Linked DNA regions of Homo sapiens. The protein of the gene in region 3 interacts with the protein of the main gene of each other region in a biochemical or structural test. Each region holds a gene or a part of one and is shown on either strand. Other genes may lie near its edges.

The links.
Region 1: of the proteins of PASK (region 3) and PDX1, one has a biochemical effect on the other in vitro, tested with the Homo sapiens proteins (one study listed by IntAct).
Region 2: of the proteins of PASK (region 3) and FXN, one has a biochemical effect on the other in vitro, tested with the Homo sapiens proteins (one study listed by IntAct).

The regions. Positions count from the first base shown.
Region 1 is NC_000013.11:27,922,988-27,926,952, forward strand, and holds the end of PDX1 (pancreas/duodenum homeobox protein 1), read left to right. Parts: intron 1-1,268; coding exon 1,269-1,714; 3' UTR 1,715-3,326; downstream 3,327-3,965. UniProt on the Homo sapiens protein: Activates insulin, somatostatin, glucokinase, islet amyloid polypeptide and glucose transporter type 2 gene transcription. Particularly involved in glucose-dependent regulation of insulin gene transcription.
Region 2 is NC_000009.12:69,038,720-69,042,370, reverse strand, and holds part of FXN (frataxin, mitochondrial isoform 1 preproprotein), read right to left. Parts: intron 1-3,651.
Region 3 is NC_000002.12:241,108,536-241,111,623, forward strand, and holds part of PASK (PAS domain-containing serine/threonine-protein kinase), read right to left. Parts: intron 364-3,088; coding exon of another isoform or gene 164-363; exon of another isoform or gene 1-163. UniProt on the Homo sapiens protein: Serine/threonine-protein kinase involved in energy homeostasis and protein translation. Phosphorylates EEF1A1, GYS1, PDX1 and RPS6.

The DNA.
Region 1 (3,965 bases), on a different chromosome or scaffold from region 3:
GGGGAAACCCAGTAGGGTTCCATCGCGAAATTAAACCCGCCCCCAACACACACACACTCGCCTTTCAATTCCTTAAGGCTTAGCCAACATTCACAGGAGAAATGTCCCCTGCCTTTGCTCTAAGACAAGCCTCTCCCCGGAACTTTGGTGGAACTTCCCGCGCCAGCGTCCACAGCCTGGGTGCAGTCAGTATTTTCCACAGAAAAGAAAAGATTGGGACCTGGCTGAGCGCAGCGGCAAACAGTGAATGTGGGTCTCCAACCTCCTGGGCCAGGGCGTCCTGTTGCCTCTTGGAGACACGAGAGGCTTGTTTCTGCACCACTACCACCTCCTCCGTAGGGCTGTCGGTTCTGCAGCTGGGCTAGGGCCCCTGTGTCTCCCCTCAACACCTCTGAGGGCATTTGGGATCCAGGGCGTAGAGTCTGGAGCTGCCAGAGTTCTGCCCTGGCCAACGTGACCCCCAGAACAATATTCCTTCACTTCGCGGGCAGAAGTCCGGCTGAAGTTAAAACAATTATGGAGAATTTGCTGGCTCTCAGGTTGGGACTAATTACGATATAACTATAGAGAGAGGAAACACATGGTCAGATATAACAAAATGTGTCACAGTCTCCATTAGCACAAAGATTTTCAAACTGCAGGTTGCACCCATTCGCAGGTCATAAAATCAATTTACTAGGTTGAGATTAGTATTTTTTAAACGAAATAGCAGATAATGGAGAGAAAAGTAGATAGCATCATACGTGGTAAACGTTTGTTTTATGTCCTTAAGATTTGTCAGTATAACTGACCTGCAGTGTCCGTGTGTGAACTACACAACGATCCGAAATGTATTTCTCACATTTGTGGGTCACCATCAGGAGGTTTTTTTTAGCCCTGGATTAAAGGCGTTTTATTGCCTTTGTAGGATCCAGCCGGTTTAACTATTATATACATTTAAATCAACATCAATCAGTTGATTAACACCGATTATATGAGCGCATTCAAGGACCACTCATTGGCAGAGCCAAGCTTAGGCTCACGGCGAGAGCTGACTCGAGTTTGGTCTCCAATAAAAAGGCTATCTTTATTAGGAAGGGCTTGAGTTACTAGGGAAGAGCTTCGCGCGCCTACACTAGGCGCTGAAATGGGATGCTGGGGCTTGGTGGCTCCGGCGGGAGCAGCTGGTAGGGCTAGGGCTCCCTGGCCCCCCTTGAAGGGGTTGGGCTGCGTGGGTGGGGGCTGTGCGGGGCTCCGGGGGCCACACTCACGCCCTGTGTCGCCCGCAGGCGGCGCCTACGCTGCGGAGCCGGAGGAGAACAAGCGGACGCGCACGGCCTACACGCGCGCACAGCTGCTAGAGCTGGAGAAGGAGTTCCTATTCAACAAGTACATCTCACGGCCGCGCCGGGTGGAGCTGGCTGTCATGTTGAACTTGACCGAGAGACACATCAAGATCTGGTTCCAAAACCGCCGCATGAAGTGGAAAAAGGAGGAGGACAAGAAGCGCGGCGGCGGGACAGCTGTCGGGGGTGGCGGGGTCGCGGAGCCTGAGCAGGACTGCGCCGTGACCTCCGGCGAGGAGCTTCTGGCGCTGCCGCCGCCGCCGCCCCCCGGAGGTGCTGTGCCGCCCGCTGCCCCCGTTGCCGCCCGAGAGGGCCGCCTGCCGCCTGGCCTTAGCGCGTCGCCACAGCCCTCCAGCGTCGCGCCTCGGCGGCCGCAGGAACCACGATGAGAGGCAGGAGCTGCTCCTGGCTGAGGGGCTTCAACCACTCGCCGAGGAGGAGCAGAGGGCCTAGGAGGACCCCGGGCGTGGACCACCCGCCCTGGCAGTTGAATGGGGCGGCAATTGCGGGGCCCACCTTAGACCGAAGGGGAAAACCCGCTCTCTCAGGCGCATGTGCCAGTTGGGGCCCCGCGGGTAGATGCCGGCAGGCCTTCCGGAAGAAAAAGAGCCATTGGTTTTTGTAGTATTGGGGCCCTCTTTTAGTGATACTGGATTGGCGTTGTTTGTGGCTGTTGCGCACATCCCTGCCCTCCTACAGCACTCCACCTTGGGACCTGTTTAGAGAAGCCGGCTCTTCAAAGACAATGGAAACTGTACCATACACATTGGAAGGCTCCCTAACACACACAGCGGGGAAGCTGGGCCGAGTACCTTAATCTGCCATAAAGCCATTCTTACTCGGGCGACCCCTTTAAGTTTAGAAATAATTGAAAGGAAATGTTTGAGTTTTCAAAGATCCCGTGAAATTGATGCCAGTGGAATACAGTGAGTCCTCCTCTTCCTCCTCCTCCTCTTCCCCCTCCCCTTCCTCCTCCTCCTCTTCTTTTCCCTCCTCTTCCTCTTCCTCCTGCTCTCCTTTCCTCCCCCTCCTCTTTTCCCTCCTCTTCCTCTTCCTCCTGCTCTCCTTTCCTCCCCCTCCTCTTTCTCCTCCTCCTCCTCTTCTTCCCCCTCCTCTCCCTCCTCCTCTTCTTCCCCCTCCTCTCCCTCCTCCTCTTCTTCTCCCTCCTCTTCCTCTTCCTCCTCTTCCACGTGCTCTCCTTTCCTCCCCCTCCTCTTGCTCCCCTTCTTCCCCGTCCTCTTCCTCCTCCTCCTCTTCTTCTCCCTCCTCTTCCTCCTCCTCTTTCTTCCTGACCTCTTTCTTTCTCCTCCTCCTCCTTCTACCTCCCCTTCTCATCCCTCCTCTTCCTCTTCTCTAGCTGCACACTTCACTACTGCACATCTTATAACTTGCACCCCTTTCTTCTGAGGAAGAGAACATCTTGCAAGGCAGGGCGAGCAGCGGCAGGGCTGGCTTAGGAGCAGTGCAAGAGTCCCTGTGCTCCAGTTCCACACTGCTGGCAGGGAAGGCAAGGGGGGACGGGCCTGGATCTGGGGGTGAGGGAGAAAGATGGACCCCTGGGTGACCACTAAACCAAAGATATTCGGAACTTTCTATTTAGGATGTGGACGTAATTCCTGTTCCGAGGTAGAGGCTGTGCTGAAGACAAGCACAGTGGCCTGGTGCGCCTTGGAAACCAACAACTATTCACGAGCCAGTATGACCTTCACATCTTTAGAAATTATGAAAACGTATGTGATTGGAGGGTTTGGAAAACCAGTTATCTTATTTAACATTTTAAAAATTACCTAACAGTTATTTACAAACAGGTCTGTGCATCCCAGGTCTGTCTTCTTTTCAAGGTCTGGGCCTTGTGCTCGGGTTATGTTTGTGGGAAATGCTTAATAAATACTGATAATATGGGAAGAGATGAAAACTGATTCTCCTCACTTTGTTTCAAACCTTTCTGGCAGTGGGATGATTCGAATTCACTTTTAAAATTAAATTAGCGTGTTTTGTTTTGTTTTGTTTTTGTTTTTGTTTGAGAGGGTCTCATTCTGTCGTTCCTGGGTTCCTCTTTTTTTCAGGGATTCTCCTACCTCAGCCTCCTGAGTAGCTGGGATTACAGGCTTACACCACCACGCCCGGCTAATTTTTGTATTTTTAGTAGAGACAGGGTTTCGCCATGATGGCCAGGCTGATCAGGGTCTATTTTTTTCGGTACTAATCAGGAAAAATCAGGTAATTAAGAAATAGTGCACTTGAGTTTTGAGTTGGAGCACCCTGTGAGGGGATGAATATCCAGTTTTGTTTTATTTTTAATTTAAGAATATCTTCTCATGATGACTTTCTCGGGTAATATAGTCTAGAGCGTGGGAGACAGCTCGGAGTACTGCTGGCCAATACTGCTTCCTGGCAGAGCCAAGCGCCGCCCACCTGACGCCTCAGTGCTGCGGGTGGTGAGACCCGTCGCTGGCTCCCACCATGGTCAGGTCTCCTCTTTCCTCCCAAAGCTGAGGACGCAGGCGAGGCCGTTTTCTGTGACCCTTCCAAAAGAAGCGTTGTTTTGGATGAGTCTCTGTCCCCGGAGGCCGAGGGCCAAAAGTGTCTTATGTTAGAGGCAAAGATGCCCGGATTTAGAGGGCTTCCAACCCCTAGGAC
Region 2 (3,651 bases), on a different chromosome or scaffold from region 3:
AGAATGGAGAACTAGGTGAGAGGCAAACTTCCGCCTCTGCCTAAGGGAGGCTCCATTCTGTTCTGCTTGAGGGAGGCAAAGCTTGGAGGTCAAGGTCATAGGATGAGTGTTCTTCCTTTTTTTTTTTTTTTCTGAGACGGAGTCTTGCTCTGTTGCCCAGGCTGGAATGCAGTGGCACAATCTAGGCTTATTGCAACCTCCGCCTCCCGGGTTCAAGTGATTCTCCTGCCTCAGCCTCCTGAGTAGCTGGGATTACAGGCGTGCACCTCCATGCCCAGCTAATTTTTGTGTTTTTAGGAGAGACAGGTTTCAGCATGTTGGTCAGGCTGGTCTCACTCCTGACCTCATGATCCACCCACCTTGGCCTCCCAAAGTGCTGGGATTACAGGCGTAAGCCACCGCACCTGGCCATGATGAGTGTTCTTTCTAAAGCCACCTGGCAGCCATGTCTCCCTCTAACTCCAGGTCACCCGTGAGCCCTTGGACCACAAGTCATGGTAGGCTTGCCTAGCTTGAGGCTTCAGATGTGTGTGCTCACTCACACAGTGCCTGCTCATGGGATGCATTTGAGGAAATATTAGATAGTTTCTGGGCCTGAAGTCTCAGGCCCAGTGGTCAGGAACCACTTGACCCAATCATTGCCTACCCCCTGGTAAGGACTGGCCTGGATGGCCAGCAGGGAGCCCAGCTTTCCTTCCCAGGTGTCCCCTTGTCACCCCCGGCCCTGTCAAACCACAGCACTTGAAGAGTGAATCAGGACCCATACCTCGCAGGGGAGGATGAACTGGCACCACCACTTTTGGCATCAAATGAGTTGATTATTGGCTGCCCCTTTGCCCAGCAATTCCATTCTGAGAAATTCACCTGAAAGGAACTTCTGTCCATGCACAAGAACAGTCACAGCAGCACCATCGTAACAACAGAACACTGCAATCAACCAAATGTCACCTAAAGGAACCTGGATAGTGTGATTTACAGTGTGATATATTTACCCAACCAGATACTATCCAGCAGTGAGAACAAATAAAGGACAACTGCATGCATCAATGCAGATGACGCACAAAAACAGTGTTGAACAAAAGGGGCAAGCCATAGCAGAACAGATACAGCAGAATACCTTGTATATAAGCAATACATGGATTGGGGGAGATACAGAGGAGGTCAAACTCTAAGAAAAGGAGGGTACGATGAACAGAATTCGGGCTGGCAGATTCCTCCAGGGAGGACAGGGCAGTGATGGGGTGAAGACAAGGGCCTCCAGAGGAACAAACAAATTCTATCTCTTAACCTGGTGTCAGGGATACAAGTATTTGTTATTTGTCTTAGTCTGGGATGTTATAACAAAATACCAGCCACTGGGTGGCTTATAAACAATAGAAATGTGTTTCTTAGAGTCCTGGAGGGTGGGAAATCCAAGATCAATGCACCAACAGCTTTGGTGTCTGGTGAGGGCCAGTTTCCTGGTTCATAGATGATGCCTTGTCACTGGGCTCCGTTGGGCTATTTTAGAAGGGCACTAATCCCAATCATATGGGCTCCACCCTCATACCTCATCACCTCCCAAGGGCCCCACCTCCTAATATCACTTTGGTGATTAGGTTTTAACATATGAATGGTGGGGTGACACAAACATGCAGACCATAGCATTTATTATTAGTTTATAAGCAGTATAAATATTTATTTATTTATTTATTTTTTTCTTTGAGATGCAGTCTCGCTCTGTCACCCAGGCTGGAGTGCAGTGGCACGATCTCGGATCACTGCAAGCTCTGCCTCCCGGGTTCACGCCATTCTCCTGCCTCAGCGTCCCGAGTAGTGGGGACTACAGGCACCCGTCACCACGCCCGGCTAATTTTTTGTATTTTTAGTAGAGATGGGGTTTCATCGTATTAGCCAGGATGGTCTCCATCTCCTGAACTCGTGATCCACCTGCCTCGGCCTCCCAAAGTGCTGGGATTACAGGCGTGAGCCACCGCGCCCGGCAGCGTATAAATATTTACATATCCTTTTCTATGTGTAAACTTGTGTAAATTGTCTGCAAGACAATAAAAATGATTTGAAAGTGAGTGAGGGTATAACCTGCTTGTTAGGCCTAAAGCCAAAAGGTCATAGGATCACAGGTGGTGGTCTTGTCCCTCTAGGAAAATGGACAGATGTCTAAAAGCTGCCCAAGGCATGCAGAAGTGGATGCCACAGGAGCTTATTGAGTCATTTAAGAGACAGCATGCTATGGTTTGAATGTTTGTCACCTCCGAAACTCATGTTGAAACTTAATTCCCGATGTGGCAGTATTGAGAGGTGGGGCCTTTAAGCGGTGACTGGGTCATGAAGGTTCTTCCCTCAATAATGGATTAATCCATTCATAGATTAATGGGTTATCATGGGAGTGAAACTAGTTAGGCTTTATAAGAAAAGAAAAAGACACCTGAGGTAGCACACTCAGCCCCTTACCATATGACGCCCGGTGCCGCCTCAATACTCTGCAAAGTCCCCACCAGCAAGAAGGGACTTGACTTTGGACTTCTCAGCCTCCAGAGCAGTAAGAAGAAAATTTTTTACCATATAAATTGCCCAGTTTCAGGTATTCTGTCACAAGCAACAGAAAATGGACTAAGAAACATCCAGTTATCTCCTTCTCGAAGCTGTCTCCGGTATTTAAGAGGAAACGTTAAAGACGCAGCCCCGTCACATCCCTCCATCAAATGGACTAAGACACATCCAGTTATCTCCTCCTCGAAGCTGTCTCCAGTATTTAAGAGGAAACGTTAAAGATGCAGCCCCTGTCACATCCCTCCATCAAAAAACATAGGCTGCCTCGTGGAATCAGAGTCCTTCCCAGCCTCCAGGTAGGTAAGGCTGGGGCTGGGGGCTGTGGGGCTGTGCTTTTAAAAGCCGTTTCTGTGGATTCTTGGTTCTGCTGAGTAGCCAGATCTGAGAACCAATGATCAGGTACTAAATATGCTGTCCCATGTGGTGGTCACCAGCCCCCGTGGCTACTGAGCACTAGAAATGTGGCTAATGGGACTGAGGACCTGGATTTTCAACTTCATTTAATTTTAATTATTTGAGGTGATAATAAAGTAATAAAGTTATTAGGAGCCTTTTTTTTTTTTTTGAGACGGAGTCTCGCTCTGTCGCCCAGGTTGGAAGGCAGTGGTGCGATCTCGGCTCACTGCAACCTCCACCACCTCCCGGGTTCAAGCAATTATCCTGCCTCAGCCTCCTGAGTAGCTGGGATTACAGGTGAGTGCCACCACATCCAGCTAATTTTTGTATTTTTAGTAGAGACGGGGTTTCACCATGTTGGCCAGGCTGGTCTCAAACTCCTGACCTCAGGTGATCCGCCCATCTCAGCCTCCCAAAGTGCTGGGATTACAGGTGTGAGCAACCACACCCAGCCTAGGAGACATTTAAGTGTGTTTGGAACAACTTGACTATGTGAACCTTCATTTTTAATTGTGAATTTTATAAAAGTAAATACAGATAGAGCATTTACTTAGAAATTGTGAATTGAGATATGCTGGAAGTATATGAGTACGAAAAGAGTATGCAAGATATCTTATTACTGATTTTTTTTGTATGTCACAGAATCCCCCAAAATCTTGGCTCACTGCAACCTCTGCCTCCTGGGCTCAAGTGATTCTCATGCCT
Region 3 (3,088 bases):
TCAGGAACTTCCTTGTGGACACCAACCACAAGACGTGTCTACCAGAGGGGGGAGCGGGGGGAGGGCTTCCTGGAGGAAGCAGAGTACACGTCCATTGGCTTTGCTGAGGGCCACGGGAGCTGCAGGCCACTTCAGAACAGGGTCACGTGCCCTTCAGACGTGATCAGGCATGTTCACGATCTTGGTGTGAACGGGCTTGGTGTGACCATGGACACACATGCCCTTTAGGAAGATGGCTGTGGCGACGATGTGAAGGGTGCTGCAGGACGAGACTGAACAGGGAAAAACACCGAAGGATGAAAGCAAACAAGAAGGACGTGGTGAAGGTGGGTGTTCACACAGTGGGCCAAATGGAGGAGCAAGCTTCAGGGAGAAGACACCCAAAGGACTATTGTTACTTCCTGTCGCCGTAAACATCCTCATCCACGCTACCATTTATTTCCTGTCACCGTAAACATCCTCATCCACGCTACCATTTATTTCCTGTCACCGTAAACATCCTCATCCACGCTACCATTTATTTCCTGTCGCCGTAAACATCCTCATCCACGCTACCATTTATTTCCTGTCACCGTAAACATCCTCATCCATGCTACCATTTATTTCCTGTCACCGTAAACATCCTCATCCATGCTACCATCTATTGGGTACCTAGAGATGCCAATGCTGTACCAGCATTTTACATGGCTTAACCCAAATCCTCACAACAACCTAGCAAGATAAATATGACTTTCATTTTGCACAGAAGAGCAAGGCTTGGTGAGGTGAAGTTGCTGCCAAGCACGCACCAGAGCCAGGTCACCAGCACCCACAGCCCTGCCCCTGCACTGGCCAAGGCCATGCGTCTCCAGGTCCGCAGCTGGGGGTCTGTCCCCAGAAGAGGTCTGGGAAGCAGCAGCCTGTTCTCAGAACCAGAATTAGACAAGGGAGCCAAGAGAAACCACAGCAGTGAGAAGAGTGGCACGGACAGAGCCCCGGGCTGGACTCGGAGAAGAGGGGCTGGGAGGGAGGGGAGGGGAGGGGAGGGGAGGGCTCAAGAGGGCAGATCACAGAGGCCAGAGCAGCAGCGTGGGTGAAAGTCGGGCCCCCAGGCTGAGTCAGCAGGGTGGTGGGGTGGCTAGCACAGACCGCAGGGAAGCTGAGCGGACGGATGAGAGCTGTAGGGGCTAGAGCAAGAAAATCAGTTTCAGCAGTTTTTGTTTTTGTGTTGTTTCTGTTTTTTAGAGAGATTTCAAGATGTTTAGAAGCTGAAGAGAAATATCCAATAGAACAGAACAGAGGTTGGCAAACTTTTCCTGTGAAGGGTCAAATAGTAAATATTTCAGGTTTTGGGCCACATGGTCCCCACTGCAACTCAACTCTGTCATGTAGGACAAAGGCAGCTACAGACGACACATAAGCAAATGAGCACAGCTCCATTCCAATAAAACTTTATTTATAGAAACAAGAGGCAGGGGATGTTTGCACACACGTTTGTAGCAGCATCACGAACAACATAAAGATGGAAGCAAAAGGTAGAAGCAACACAAATGTCCACTGACAGATGAATAAGTACAGCATATCCAGAAAACGCAATCAAATTCAGCCTTGAAAAGGAAGATGCTGGCACAGGCCACAACATGGATGGACCTTGAGGACTTTATGCAAAGTGAAATAAGCCAGTCACCAAAAGGCAAATGCTGTACGATTCCACGTATAGGAGGTCCCTAGAGTAGTCAGATTCATAGAGAAAATAGCAGAATGGCAGCTGCCAGGGCCTGAGGAAGGGGAAGAGGGACCTAAGGCCACAGTCTGCCGACCCTGGAGTAGACGGAGATGAAGATGACAAGACAGAAGCCAGGGCCCTGAGGATGGGATTGAGAATAAGAACTCAGAAACCCTTTCATCCAGGGAGATGGGGAGAGGACGCAGGAGGGAGGAAGGAGCTCCTGAGAGGAGGCCTGCAGCCCCGCAGGCCCAGGAGCAGTACACCGCTCACAGCCAGAAAGGAGAGGCCAGGAGGCAGGGCAGAGCCCTGGCAGGGCAGGCGCTCAGGGAGAGGGTGGGAGCCACAGCTCTGGGAGGCAGGGCCAAGGTGGCCAAGCAGCACTGAGCTCTCGCCCAGGTTGGATCCCCCCTGCACCCTCCCCAAGCTTCACGGCCTGGGTACAGGAAGGGGTGACAAGCCATGCAGCAGGCATCATGGGTCAGTGGACAGGGGACAGGCAGTTCCCTCCAGCACGGAGGGCACGACAACCACTGCAGGGCAGGCAGAGCCCACCAGCGCCCACCAGGCTCTAGGGCAACCAAACTAGATCTGAAGGGAAACTCCACGGCCCTTCTTAGACCAACCCCCTTCGATATTTCACGCTGTTTGGTGGCTCTGAAGATGCATGGAGGTTCTAGCGGGGAAGAGCCCATTTTCACTTCCTCCATACTCTGCACACAGGGCATCCAGGCCCAGAAGAGCTCAACGCTGCCTGGCATGGAGAGGTTGGCGCAGGCTGAGGCTGCTGGGCTCTGAGGACTCAGGGTGTGCAGCCTGGAACCTGCACCTCCTAATGAAATATGGCCTAAGCAGACACCAGGATCCAGAGCCCAGCCACTCCTCTCCCCAATGCTGAGGCCCTCCCGAGAGCCCAAGGCACGGCATGGAGCTCGTGCGTGACTGCGAGCAAATGCCCTGGCCTCAGGCCACCAGGTCAGGTGCAGCAGGTCTGTGAGGGACCCCGTGTGCCTCTCCTGTGGGGGCAGCATCAGCTTCCCTCCTAGAGAACCACATGGAGCAGATATGGGCGGTGCAGCAGAGCACTGCAGCAGAGGGCCAGGAGGGTCCAAGCAGTGCTGTGATCATCCGACTCTCTAACCATGAACTCACCTAGAGATGCATTCCAACCACACCTCTCTAAAATACATGTAGGTGTTAGTGGAAAACACCTGCTATCTATTTCTGACTTAATAAAGTCTATTTCATACACATAGACACATTTGGTTTACAGGCAGATGAGACAGTGATCGGGCACGTCAGCAGACAGTCTCCACTCAGGCCCTACAAATGAACCACAATCTTCCTTTCCGTTTTGCTTTCCTCTCTAAAGTCCCCCGAGAG